2 linked regions of the Homo sapiens genome follow. The protein of the gene in region 1 purifies or fractionates together with the protein of each later gene. This does not show direct contact. Each region holds a gene or a part of one and is shown in the gene's direction. Other genes may lie near its edges. The genes, in order: ARPC4 and ARPC1A.

Region 1 (4,761 bases):
TTTTTAGTAGAGACGGGGTTTCACTGTGTTAGCCAGGATGGTCTTGATCTCCTGACCTTGTGATCCGCCCACCTCGGCCTCCCAAAGTGTTGGGATTACAGGCGTGAGCCACCGCGCCCGGCCCACTGAATCAGTCTCTTAAAGCCACAGTTAACATTGGGTCAGTTGTTGCCTGAATTTGTACTTGAATCTTCTCCACAGACTCCTTGCCAGGTAAACTTAAAATATCCCCAGTGACTAAGCAACTACCACACAGCAGCATGTGCCATCATCAGACACGTCAGGCGTGTTAGCCAAGTTCTTCCTCATTCTGAGCCAAATTTTCTCTCCTGGTCCTAGATCTAACCTCTGGGGCCACCCGGAATAAATAAAATTGATCTTCCTCCCACAGCCCTCCAGCAGAAAAAGACCCTTAATCCCACCCATCTTCCACATCATCTCTTCTCTGGACTAAATGTTCCCTGTTGTTTGATTAGATTATTCTGTAACAAGACTTCAAGTTCCTTGACTCATTCTGAATGCAGAGCTGTTGTGCCACAGATAGTTTTCCAGAGATGTCTGATACACACAGAATTCTCAACGGGGTTCAGTTGCTTGGATCCAACCTAGACACCCTCCCCCAGAGCAGCTGGGCTGCTGACTGGAAGGGTATGTAGCTTGGGAGAAGATCACAGCCAGTGGGAAGCATGTGGATGAGTGGAGGACATGACCAGCTCAGTTCCCATGGGGTGCTAATTCTCTCCTGTTCCTTCTCTTCCCCCTCCCTACTGTCTTCTTCCCTAGGGGTATGATATCAGCTTTCTGATCACCAACTTCCACACAGAGCAGATGTACAAACACAAGTTGGTGGACTTTGTGATCCACTTCATGGAGGAGATTGACAAGGAGATCAGTGAGATGAAGCTGTCAGTCAATGCCCGTGCCCGCATTGTGGCTGAAGAGTTCCTTAAGAATGTGAGTAGGGGCCTTTAGCTTTCCTTCCAGAGGCCAGAGGATCTGGGGGTCATGTTGAGAACTTAGCATCTGGTGGGAAAGGGGTCCAAGCAGTGTGTTTATATCTCCTGAGCTCTCTAGGACCCCTGGGGCACAGCAGGTCAGTCAGGTGCTTTGGAGCTAGAGGACCCCAAGTTCATCTCTGAGAGCTACAAGGCATTTTCTATATTTGGGTGTCTGGGGTGGCTCTTAGTCTCTCGTAGGAACTTGGTCACTCATTTCTACATCTCAGGATGTTCACAAAGTCCTTGCCTCTATCTCGTTTAAACCCCAAGTGAGGTAAGTGAAGTCTGCATGTGAATTTTCTAGGAGTATAGGACAATTAATCATGTTATGATTCCACTTCTCAAATAGACTTCAGTACTTTCCTTCAGCATGTTTCTCAGGCTTAAATCATGATTCCTTCAACCTGTTTTCCATCACTTGCATGGCGTAAGTCCTCCAGATTCCTCTTACGTTGTTTATGTCTTTCTAATTGAAAGCACTTTAGTCATCTGAAGAGGTAGAATTGTTTACATTGATGAACTGGTGACATCGTTCTTAGTTGTTTAGATATTCAGAACATGCCTTTTTTTTTCTCCTTTTTCCAAGCAATCTTTGGTTTGTTGACATGTGCCACCCAGAGTGGCTGTGATCTCTAGACGGTAGACTTAGTGTGTACTCCCACCAGTAAGTACATACCCAGTCCAGAAGGAGCTCAGATTCCTAAAAATGGAAATTATACCCGCTTCCCTTGGGATTTAATTATACTGAGGGTGGCCAGTGTACAGAGTAGCTGTGGTGGGTGCACAGGTCGGCATGGCTGTTCAGCTCACTCGGCTATGGAGGCAACCCACCTGTGTGGGAATCCAGGCTCCACCGCCTACTCAGGCATGTCACTGAACTCTCAACTAAGTCTCAGTTTCCTCAGCTGTGAAATGAAGGTCTGGTAATTAATACTTATCTTTCAGTGGTTGAGCATTAAATGAGACCATGTGTGTAAAACGTAGCACCTGGTACATAGTAAGCTTTCCGTGTATTGCACCACCAAAATTTTATGGCCAGGATATTAGGAGGCCTCTAGATTGAACTGGAAGGGGAAAATAGCTCTTGTTCCAATTGAATATTTGGCTCACTCACTCAACAATCATTTACTTATTTATGATAATTATATCGCACAGAATTGGACCCCTAAAAAAGTATGTTCACATGTCCCATTTATTACTCAAAACAGTCTTTGAGTCAGCTATTATCGCCATGTTAGAGATTAATAAACTGGGGCTTTAGAAGTAAAAGCACCTGTCCAAAGTCCCTCAGCCAGTAAGAGGAGGAACCAGAATGTGGAGCTGGGTTTTCGGACTCAGAGGTCTAAGAAAGTACCATAGCCTTTGTCAAGGGTCACAAATTCAGGTGCATCCAAAGGTCGGGTAGCTATGGAGTGGGCTGAGTATGGAGTGGGCAGGGTGAGGAGCTGCTGAGCGCATGCCTCATGTGCAGGGGCTGGCTCCCACACAGCTCCAGGCCATTGAACCCCCAAATTTGGATTTGTATATGGCATCTTCCATGTTTTCAAGGTTGGCAACTAATTCATATTGTTTTAAACACCATGTGGGCCATGCAGTGCTCATCTTTGGGCTAGTTTCAGGCATGGGCCATTGGTTCACAACCTTTGGTCTCTAAAATGTGCAGGGCTGTCCTAGGCAGCATGGGGGACCCTTGAGGGCAGAAAACATTTCAAGGGCCTGGCTTGGTTGGAGGTTCATCCAGAGCTTGACACAAAAGTACCAGAACCTGGGTCCTTTTCCACTTGGCCCTCTGAGTCCCCAGGCCCCTTGCATGAGAGCCCCCATGCCTAAAGAAAGCAACCTCAGTTCACCAGGCAGGACGCTGGCAGGGCTTTCTAGCAGCCTCCATGCCAGGGCACAAGGGAGCTGTGGAGAAGCTCTCATGGCTCTTAATTTTTCTGCCTTATCTAGTGCTAGGCTTAGGGCCGGTGCCCATAGGTCACTTCTGAAAGCTGGCTGAATTAGAGCATGACCACAAGGTGTCCTGGGACCCAACTCTGCCCCTCACAGATATGAGCACAGTGGCAGCTCTCAGGTTCATGCACCTCCTTAGAGCAGTGCCACCAGGATGCAATAATAACCACCATGCACTGCCTCTTGGTTCTCTTGACAGTTTTAAACCATCTGGCTGGATCTCGTGGCCTTCCCCCTCAGACTACCCATGTCTCCACGAAGGCGTCCTGGAGTCACTCCCCGAGCAGCGCGGCGGCGGCAGGGAGTTGGGTTGGGGTGGGCATTTGATGCGGGAGGTGGGTGGTGTGCTTGCTAGCTGGGCAAGAAAGCAGCAGTGGACCTGCCCCAAGGCCACACGTGCCTGGTCAGGCTGGCTTCTGATGTTCAGTCCCCTGGGCCGGGACAGATTTTTTTTAACGTCTTGAAACTTAAACTCTGTGCTTGTAGGATACTGTAACCTTTTTGTCTTTTTTTTTTTTTTTTTTTTTAAACCTCCACCTCCAGTGGCTGTGACTGGTCCCAGTGATTATACGTTATTGGTTGCTGTGGGTCTGGGCGGGCCTGGAGCCAGAAGGCGACTTATTTTTTCTCTCCTATGCCACCCCAGGTGGGGAGGGAGGGAGGTTTCAGACTCCAGTTTCTCCCTTGCCCTTTTATTCCCAAGCCTCCTTGGCCCCAGTATAAGTGTTGGGAACTCTCTGCCAGCTTCCTGAGTTCTGCCTAAAGATGGCCCCCCAGCACTGGTTGGGGACAAGGGCCAAATTGGTGACCACCAGTCATGCCTAGGACCTGGGGCCCAAAAGCCGGGCAACCTCTGGCTACAGGGGCCATTGGGTGCCCTCCCAGTTGAGAGGGGCCGCTGTTTCGCCTTGTCCGTCAGTGCCAGTGCCTGTGCCAGAGGTGGCGAGGTGAGTCCTCCAGAGCTTCCTGGCCGGGCCCTCCTCCTGCCTGTTCTGGCTCCTCTGCTCCCACGCTAGCTGTCCCTTTTCTGATTCTGGTGGATCCTCCCTCCCCTAATTAAAGTCTCTTTTTGCCCCTTTGGGGCTGCATGAGGTCTATGCTGTGTGTGTGTGTGAAAGGAGGGGAGGTGGGGCTTCTTTTCCCTGAGACCAGATGGCTGGTAATTGTGCCTGGAGCTCCCCACTGGGTGCAGTCTCATGATTGGTCCTGCCATTATTCCTGCCAGGGGTCCCAACCCAGAGACTCCATTCATTGCAGTCCAGGCACCATTAATTTCTGAAACTGCTCTGTCTGCCTATACAGAGCTTTGGTGCTTTTCACATAAGGAACTTACTTGGGCTAAAAAGTAACCTCAGAGAAACAGTGCTCCCATTTGGTGGATAAGGAAACTGAGGTTCCAAACATGAGATGTAATAGCTTGCCCCAAATCTAGCCAGTGAGCAAGAGAGTAGACTTTTGCCTGTGCCAAAACAGTAATCACCATCCACAAGTGGCTATTTAAATTTTAATTATTACAATTAAATAAAGTTTAAAATCCAGTTCCCCAGTCCCACTGGCAACTTAACAGCTACCAGTGACTGTACCATATATAACAGCATATATAGACATACAGCATATACAACACATACATAGAGATTCCCATCATTGCAGAAAGTTCCATTGGATAGTACTAGACCTTAGTAACACCTTGAAGTAAAAAGACAAAAGACCCTTGTGTTTGAGTCCTGATTCTTCTTGCCAGATTTGGCTAAGTTACTTCTATTTTGTGTCTCAGTTTCTTAGTCTATGAAGTGGAGATAATGAATATAAA
Region 2 (8,019 bases), on another chromosome or scaffold:
TTAAGACCTTTGCAATCTCTGGAGTGATAAGTGTGTCTCTCTATGCTAATGAAATGACTGGTGGATGAGGGTGCTAGATGGCTCCAGAATGATTTTATTAAAATAATCTAAGCTTGCATAACATGGAAAAATGTGTCGGTAACAAAATGTCTAAGTGGCTCTGGCCTTGAGGAGATTTACAGGTTCATGGGTTACAGATTTCACTTATTAAATTAGGTAAGTAACACAGGGAATTCCCAAGTCTGCTTGTATGATTGTCTTACAAGTATGGTATTTGCGATAATATGCTATTTATACACACCACCTGAGACTACCCTGTGCCCCTAGACATCCCGTGACTGGTCCCATCTCTGTCCTATGGAAATGAACTGAGTGAGCAGTGGAAAAATCCACATGCACTTTTCAGTTCACCTGTATTGAACTCTACAAAATCCTTTCCATAGGAAGTTTTCCTCACTGGGAACATACCCAGCAATTAGGACAATATCTAAAGCATAAGGATTATTGTTAACTAATAACACACAATATGCATTAATAGTTTTGTCCTTTTGTTTGTTTATAGCTTTTATTGGCATTGATTCAGTATTTCCAACAGTTTTTTTGGTGACTAGATGGCAGGCATTATTGGAAGATCTGCAGTAATTGTTCACCATTTCAGCTGTTGGCACAACAAGCAAGAAACAATCTTCTTACTCTCCAACTCCACATTCCAGTTATTAAATCAAGCTCTCCTGAGAAGGAAATCCTTACGCCTTTACAAACATGTAACCTTCCTAAACTATGATGGATTATGTTCCTGATGTGTCTATATAAGCCCCACCTTCCATTCTCAACTAGCAGTAACCTCTGTGTCCTTTGACATCCAAATTGTTTTCTTTCATTCATTTGCACTTTCATTCAACGAATGTTAACCAGGACCTTCCAGATTCAAGGTATTGTGCATTTCCTTTTATTTAAAATTATTTTAGCAGCATCCCTGGTCTAAAAATAAGATAAAATATTTTGTGGACTGGTCATATCCTAATCTCTAAGTTACTTGAGAACAGAAGGATCTTACTCTACTCTTATTAACACAATAGTTGGCACTTGGTGAGTATTTATTAAATATTTGATGCCTTGAATCTTGACCAAATTCTAATTCAACTCAATTCCAATTCCAATCCAATCAGCAAAGCAAACAAAATCAGCCCACGGTAGTGTCCAACCCCTCCCTCTCTTCCATTGCCCACTTCTAAGTACCACCTTCCCTGGCACTAATTGTTAAGTCTAATTAGGGAAAAGGAGTCAGGATGGTGGGAGCAGGGGGAAGCAAAAAGAAGCAGGTAAACTACAAGTCTGCCATTCTTTATGGTCCAGACACACAGCCCTCCTCTGCAAATAACTCACAATCTTCCTGCGCCCAACAATTACAGCATAAACACTATTCCATAAAATCCCCAGCAAGCCTTTCTTTGCAGTTGGCTGCTCTTCTGCTGATTCTGCCTGTTGCCTTCTCGTACCTTCCTACTTTCTCTAACAAATCTGCCTTTATCTACAACTGTCTTGGTAAATCCTTTTACCCACGTACCACCAGCCCAGACAGCTGCCCCTCACCCATGATACTAATCTTTTAAAAGGTTGAGTCTGCATTTTGGATACTACATCACACATGCCTTAAAAACAAACATTAAAAGTAACTCACCCTCCTTAGAACCCTGATGGTTGGCTTTTATAGCAGGGCACGATGGTATAACCAGTAAGGCCAGAGCAGGTGGCCAGCCCCCCAACCCTCCCTGCCTTGTATCAAAACCCTCAGGTTTCAGGCCAGGCTTGGTGGCTCATGCCTGTAATCCCAGCACTTTAGGAGGCCAAGGTGTGTGGATCACTTGAGGCCAAGAGTTCAAAACCAGCCTGGCCAACATGGCAAAATCCCATCTTTACTAAAAATACAATAATTAGCTAGGTGTGGTGGCACGCGCCTGTAATCCCAGCTACTCAGGAGGCTGAGGCATGAGAAACGGTTGAACCAGGGAGGTGGAGGTTGCAGTGAGCTGAGATCACGCCACTGCACTCCAGCCTCGGTGACAGAGCCAGACACTGTCGCATAACAAAACAAAACAAAAAAATTCCTCAAGTGTCAAAATTTTTCTTTTTCTTCAATTACAGAAGAGCCCCGCTTAGAGCTAAGATTCTACCATCTGGAATGACTCATAAAATATGAAGTGGGCCGGGTGTGGTGGCTCACGCCTGTAATCCCAGCACTTTGGGAGGCCGAGGCGGGAGGATCATGAGGTCAGGAGTTCGAGACGAGCCTGACCAACATGGTGAAACCTTGTCTCTACTAAAAATACAAAAATCAGCTGTGCATGGTGGCGTGTGCCTGTAATCCCAGCTACTCAGGAGCCTGAGGCAGGAGAATCGCTTGAACCTGGGAGGCAGAGGTTGCAGTGAGCCAAGATCGCACTATTGCACTCCAGCCTGGGTGACAGAGTGAGACTCCATCTCAAAAAAAAAAAAAAAAAGTGAAATGCATCAAATGGTAAGCTTTGGTTAGGCTAAATTGCAAAATACTATTTCAAATCAGAACCAGAGATTAATAATAGTAAATATCTGTTATTTTTTTCTGGGGCTAACATTTCTTGTCACTTATCATAAAGTCTGGTATTAATTTGCATGTGTTACTCTCATCTACCCAGATTATAAATTCCATCAAAGCAGTAAGTGTTCCTTGTAAAGAGGTGGGATCTTCATAAACTCCTCTACATACTTGGGAATTGGTTCAAGTAACTTGCAGACACACAAGGAATCCCTGCTTTCCACACCTGCTGTCCTCCCTTTCCCAAGCTGTCTCTTGGAGGGGGTAATGAATTTACAATGATCTTTCTACACTATCTGCTCGATTACCCTATGACCAAAGACTTTGTAACCACAGGTCAGAGTTAAAATCAGAATTTCAGTGAAGCGATGTTCCATGAACAGCTGGATTCACTAACTCAGTGGTCCCCAATCTTTTTGGCAGCAGTGACCGGTTTCATGGAAGACAATTTTTCCACGGAAAAGGGGGCAGGGGCTAGGGGAGAGGGGTGGGGTGGTTTTAGATCATCAGGCATTAGATTCTCATAATGAGCATGCAACCTAGATCCCTCGCATATGCAGTTCACAATAGGGTTCACTTTCCTATGAGACTCTAATGCCCCCACTGATTGGACAGGAGGCAGAGCTCAGGCCGTAATGCCAGAGATGGGGAGCGGCTGTAAATACAGATGACACTTCGTTGGCTCGCCCTGCTCACCTCATGTGCCAATGGGTTCCTAACAGGCAACAGACCAACACCCGTCAGCAGCCAAGGAGTTGGGGAACTCTGCACTAACTCCAAAGAACATAGCGGGTCTGGCAGGGCATGGTGGCTCACGCCTGTAACCCTAGCACTTTGGGAGGCTGAGGCAGGCGGGATCACCTGAAGTCAGGAGTTCGACACCAGCGTCGCCAACATTGCAAAACCCCGTCTATACTAAAAATACAAAAATTAGCCGGGCATGGTGGCGCGCAGCTGTAGTCCCAGCTACTCGGGAGGCTGAGGCAGGAGAATCGCTTGAACCCGGGAGGCGGAGGTTACAGTGAGCCGAGATCGCGCCACTGCACTCCAGCTTGGGCGACAGAGAAAGGCTCCGTCTCAAAAAGATCACAGCGGGTCTGAAATTGAGAGTTTGACAAGTATACCTACATAAACCTCACCTTACAATACCAAAGGGAAGGAGACAAGCCCTTGGTTGGCCTGGCATGGCGCTGGGCGGCGGCGGGGGGGAGCTCACATCGCTTTGGGAAGCAGAGGCTAGAGGATTGCTTGAGCCCAGGGGTTCAAGACCAGCCTGGACAACATAGGAAAACCTCATCTTTACAAAAAATATAAAAATTAGCCAGGCACAGTGGCTCACACCTGTAATCTGAGGGCTTTGAGAGGCCAAAGAGGGACGATCGCTTGAGCCCAGGAGTTCAAGACCAGCCTAAGCAACACAGCAAGACCCTGTCTCTACCAAAAAATAAAAATTAGCCAGGCGTGGTGGTGTGCACTTGTAGTCCCAGCTCCACGGGGGGCTGAGGCGGGAGGATCGCTTGAGCCCAGGGGTTCCAGGCTGCAGTTAGCTATGATCGCGCCACTGCACTCCAGCCTGGGCTACAGGTTGAGAACCTGTCTAAAAAAAAAGAAAAAAGAAAAGCTCTCGATTAGCCCCATCTGTGGGGGCTGGGGATGCTCCAGAATTTCTAGGGTTCAAGGGCAGCAGCCTGATTGCAGGTGGGGATCAGGGCATTTCTTGGAGGCTGCATCTGCGGGGCAGGCTCTGTCCTCTGTGAATTGGGGGCCTTGCCAAGTTCCCCCAACCCTTTTATCCCTGCTGCGCCATCTTGGGAGCAGGGAACTGCTTGGGAGCAGGGGATTCTGTCCCAGGAAGGGTCGAGAAAGTTCCTGGGGGGCTTCAGGGGCTTTCCACAGAGGGAGCACGGCGGGGGCGGAGGCTCCCTGCAGGGAGCAGCGCTGAGGTAGACTGGCTCTGACCTTGGCTCTCTGAAGGGAGAAAAACTTAATCGTTCTTCAGGTCCAAGAGCTCCAAAGACCCCCAATCCTCAGTAACTCATCTCCTGACAAAAGACCTTGCGAAACTGCCAAAGCGCCACACTTCGGCTCGCGATTGTGAGGAAATTGGTTGAGGAACGGAGTGGGACGCCCATGCCGCTTCGCCAGCACTTGCCAGGCGTTCCGTGGGGCAGCATCTCCTCTGAAGGGCCGCCGACAGTACCACGCCAATGGAACGGCGTACCCTCCTCCACTGCAGCCTGCCTAACCCCGGACTGCGCGCCCGAGCTGTGCGCATGCGCGGACCGTCCGCGCGGTCGCAACGCGCAGGCGCCGTGTCCACTTCCGGGATCTGTCAGCCGCTCCCTCTGGGCTTCCGTCCTCCGCCCGCGCCCGACGGAGCCTGTTCGCGTCGACTGCCCAGAGTCCGCGAATCCTCCGCTCCGAGCCCGTCCGGACTCCCCCGATCCCAGGTAACGGCCAGCAGGGGCGAGCGTCTCACCCTGTCGGCCTCTCTTGTCCAGGCCTGGCGCCGGACTTGCCGCGGGGGCAGTGAGACGGGGGCTCAGGCCGCGGGGCCCCGAGGCTGAGGCGCGGCCGGGTCTCCCTGCCGGGGCCTCCTGAGGGGGCGGGGATCCCCTTTCTCCGTGGATCCCCTGCAGCTTTTCTCAGGATGTTCGAGCTCCTAGCCGCCTCCGATGCCCGAATTAACGGCCCCTTCTGCGCCCCCAGGGTCCTACTTGCACCTCTGCTGGGGGCATTTGTCACCGTCTCTAAAATTGTGTCAAGTAGGAGGATCTCCCGTAATCGAGCGACCCGCGGGACTATTCATCTCTTTAGTGTCTAGAGTCGATCCCTGCATACAGTAGGCGCCCATAGGATGTTTGCCTGCTCTCTAGGGCAGCCCTCAATCCTTCGGTTAATGGGGAACCTTCTCGATCTCGAGAAAAACCTTCTCCCGAGTTCTTTTAAGATTTCCCTGCATGAGTACCGCCTTCCCCCAAGTCAAAATTGCACCCTTCTCGGCGCTCTTATTCATTTAGTGGAATCTTTTATGCCAGTCCTGGCACCACCACTTTGTTGAGTGATCCTGGGAAGATGCTTCTCTGCGCCTGTTTCCTCATCTGCAATAAAAAGATTCTTACCGTTTTGCTAAGAATCAAGTGAGCTTATTTGCATAAATTGCTTAGAATAGTTCCTGGCCGAGAGTAGGTGATCAATAAATATTAGCTATTATTACTGCTTCTGGGCATTCTATGCATATCCGTCTTCCTTTCCTTTTCTATCTCCTCCACTCTCCCCAAACACCAACCCTCCAGACTTGAAGACCAGAATGGTGTCAGCCTTATTTATGTTTCTAGCCCCATCCCGGTATTTACAACACTGCTGGGAACATGATAGGCACTTAATCAGTTATAGCTTAGAATCTTTGATTATAAAGCCATCTGTTCTCCTGCAGCTTTGGAACCTTCTGTCTATGTCAACTCGTAGCTTAAATTGCCGAGATTATCTTAGTTCTGCCCTCTCTCCTCAATTTTATCTAGTCTTGTGGTTTCACATAGGGCCTGGGTTTTCAGGTATCTAAAAACAGAGGAGGGGCATCAGTCAGGAAGGTGTTTTTGTCCTGTTAGGGAGTGGGTAACTGTGGTTGTTGTCTTCCTTTTTTTTTTTTTTCCTGCAGCCTCGACCTCCTGGGCTTAACAGATCCTCCCACCTCAGCCTCCTGAGTAGCTGGGACTACAGGCGTGTGCCACCACACTGGGCTAATTTTCATTTATTTTTATTTACTTATTTTTGGAGATAGAGTCTCACTCTGTCACCCAGACTGGAGTGCAGTGGTGTGATCTTGGCTCACTGCAACCTCCACCTCCTGGGTTCAAGCGATTCTCCTGCCTCAGCCTCCCGAGTAGCTGTGACTACAGGCATGAGCCACTGCGCCTGGCTAATTTTTTTTTTTTTTTTGTATTTTTTGTAAAGACAGGGTCTCCATATGTGGCCCAAGCTGGTCTGGAGCTCCTAAGCTCAAGCTATCCTCCCACCTCGACCTCCCAAAGTGCTGGGATTTTGGGTGTGAGACACCACACCCAGCTTATATGGCTATTTTCTCCCACAAAGTATTCAGAGATCTTCTGGAGTTCATCTGTTAATCACAGTTAAAGGAAGGGACCATTTCGGAAAACTCCTATTTTGGACGCGGAGTGGTGATACTTTGATCTAGTTGTCTCATCCAATGCTGAAACAAATCCTATATAAAGAAGTTTAAAATGGTCTGCTGGTGAGGCTGGTGCCTGGACTGGAGCCTGTCTGAATGTTGAGGAGGGTGTGGTGACCTTGTTGGAGTACTTGATGTTGCTAGATTGGCTAATGAGAGTGATTAGGAACTAGGTGAATCACGGTCTTGAAAACTGACCCTAAACAGGGGACAGAAATGCCCACTTTTGTGGGCATTTTCAAGCTCCAAAGGAGTAGGGCCAAGAATTTATAGCATATGTCAACGTTTCCAAGCTCAGAGGAAACTAACTGGTGGGTTCTATGGTTGGTTTAAAAGCCTTGAGTTGGCCAGGTGCAGTGGCTCACGCCTGTAATCCCAACACTTTGAGAGGCTGAGGCGGGTGGATCACCAAGGTCAGGAGTTTGAGACCAGCCTGACCAACATGGAGAAACCCCGTCTCTACTAAAAATACAAAATTAGCCAGGCATGGTGGCACGTGCCTGTAATCCCAGCTACTCAGGAGGCTGAGGCTGGAGAATCGCTTGAACCCGGGAGACGGAGGTTGCGGTGAGCTGAGATCACACCATTTCACTCCAGCCTAGGCAACAAGAGCAAAACTCCATTTAAAAAATAGAAAAGCCTTGGGTCAAAGGGAGAAAGGGAACCTGCTGGCATGTATTTCAGGCTAGGCTCTGTACTACTTGCTTTCACATGTCTCATTTAATTCTCCTTGTGATCTCAGTGGTATATCCACTTTACAGAAGAAAAAAATGAGATTTAGAGATATCAAGTGACTTGCCCAGGGTTTCATAGCTAGTGTGTGTCAAAAGCCAGGGTTCAAACCCAGCCTCGGCTTCAGAGCCCATGGCTAGCCATACATCAGAATGACTCTGTACTCAGTGATAGATAAAGAAAAGGGGTGGGGGCCGGGCATGGTGGCTCATGCTTGCAATCTTAACACTTTGGGAGGCTGAAGTGGGCAGATCACTTGAGCCCAGGAGTTTGAGACCAGCCTGGACAACATAGGGAGACCCCTGTCTTTACAAAAAACTAAAAAATTAGCAGGGCATAGTGATGCATGCCTGTGGTCCCAGCTACTCAGGAGGCTAAAGTGGGAGGATGGCTTGACCCTGGGAAGCCGAGGTTGCAGTGAACTGAGATCACACCACTGCAGTCCAGCCTGGGTGACAGAGCAAGACCTTGTCTGAGAAAAAAACTCAGAGAGAGAGAAAAGGGATGAGGGGGGAGGGAGGGA

What was found.
Region 2: the proteins of ARPC4 (region 1) and ARPC1A fractionate together in Homo sapiens (co-fractionation; 7 studies listed by BioGRID and IntAct, with this or other methods). This does not show direct contact.

What each region holds. Positions count from the first base shown.
Region 1 is NC_000003.12:9,803,060-9,807,820, forward strand, and holds the end of ARPC4 (actin-related protein 2/3 complex subunit 4), read left to right. Parts: intron 1-783; coding exon 784-954; intron 955-3,150; coding exon 3,151-3,156; 3' UTR 3,157-4,042; downstream 4,043-4,761. UniProt on the Homo sapiens protein: Actin-binding component of the Arp2/3 complex, a multiprotein complex that mediates actin polymerization upon stimulation by nucleation-promoting factor (NPF).
Region 2 is NC_000007.14:99,320,980-99,328,998, forward strand, and holds the start of ARPC1A (actin-related protein 2/3 complex subunit 1A), read left to right. Parts: upstream 1-4,918; 5' UTR 4,919-5,025; intron 5,026-8,019. UniProt on the Homo sapiens protein: Probably functions as a component of the Arp2/3 complex which is involved in regulation of actin polymerization and together with an activating nucleation-promoting factor (NPF) mediates the formation of branched actin networks.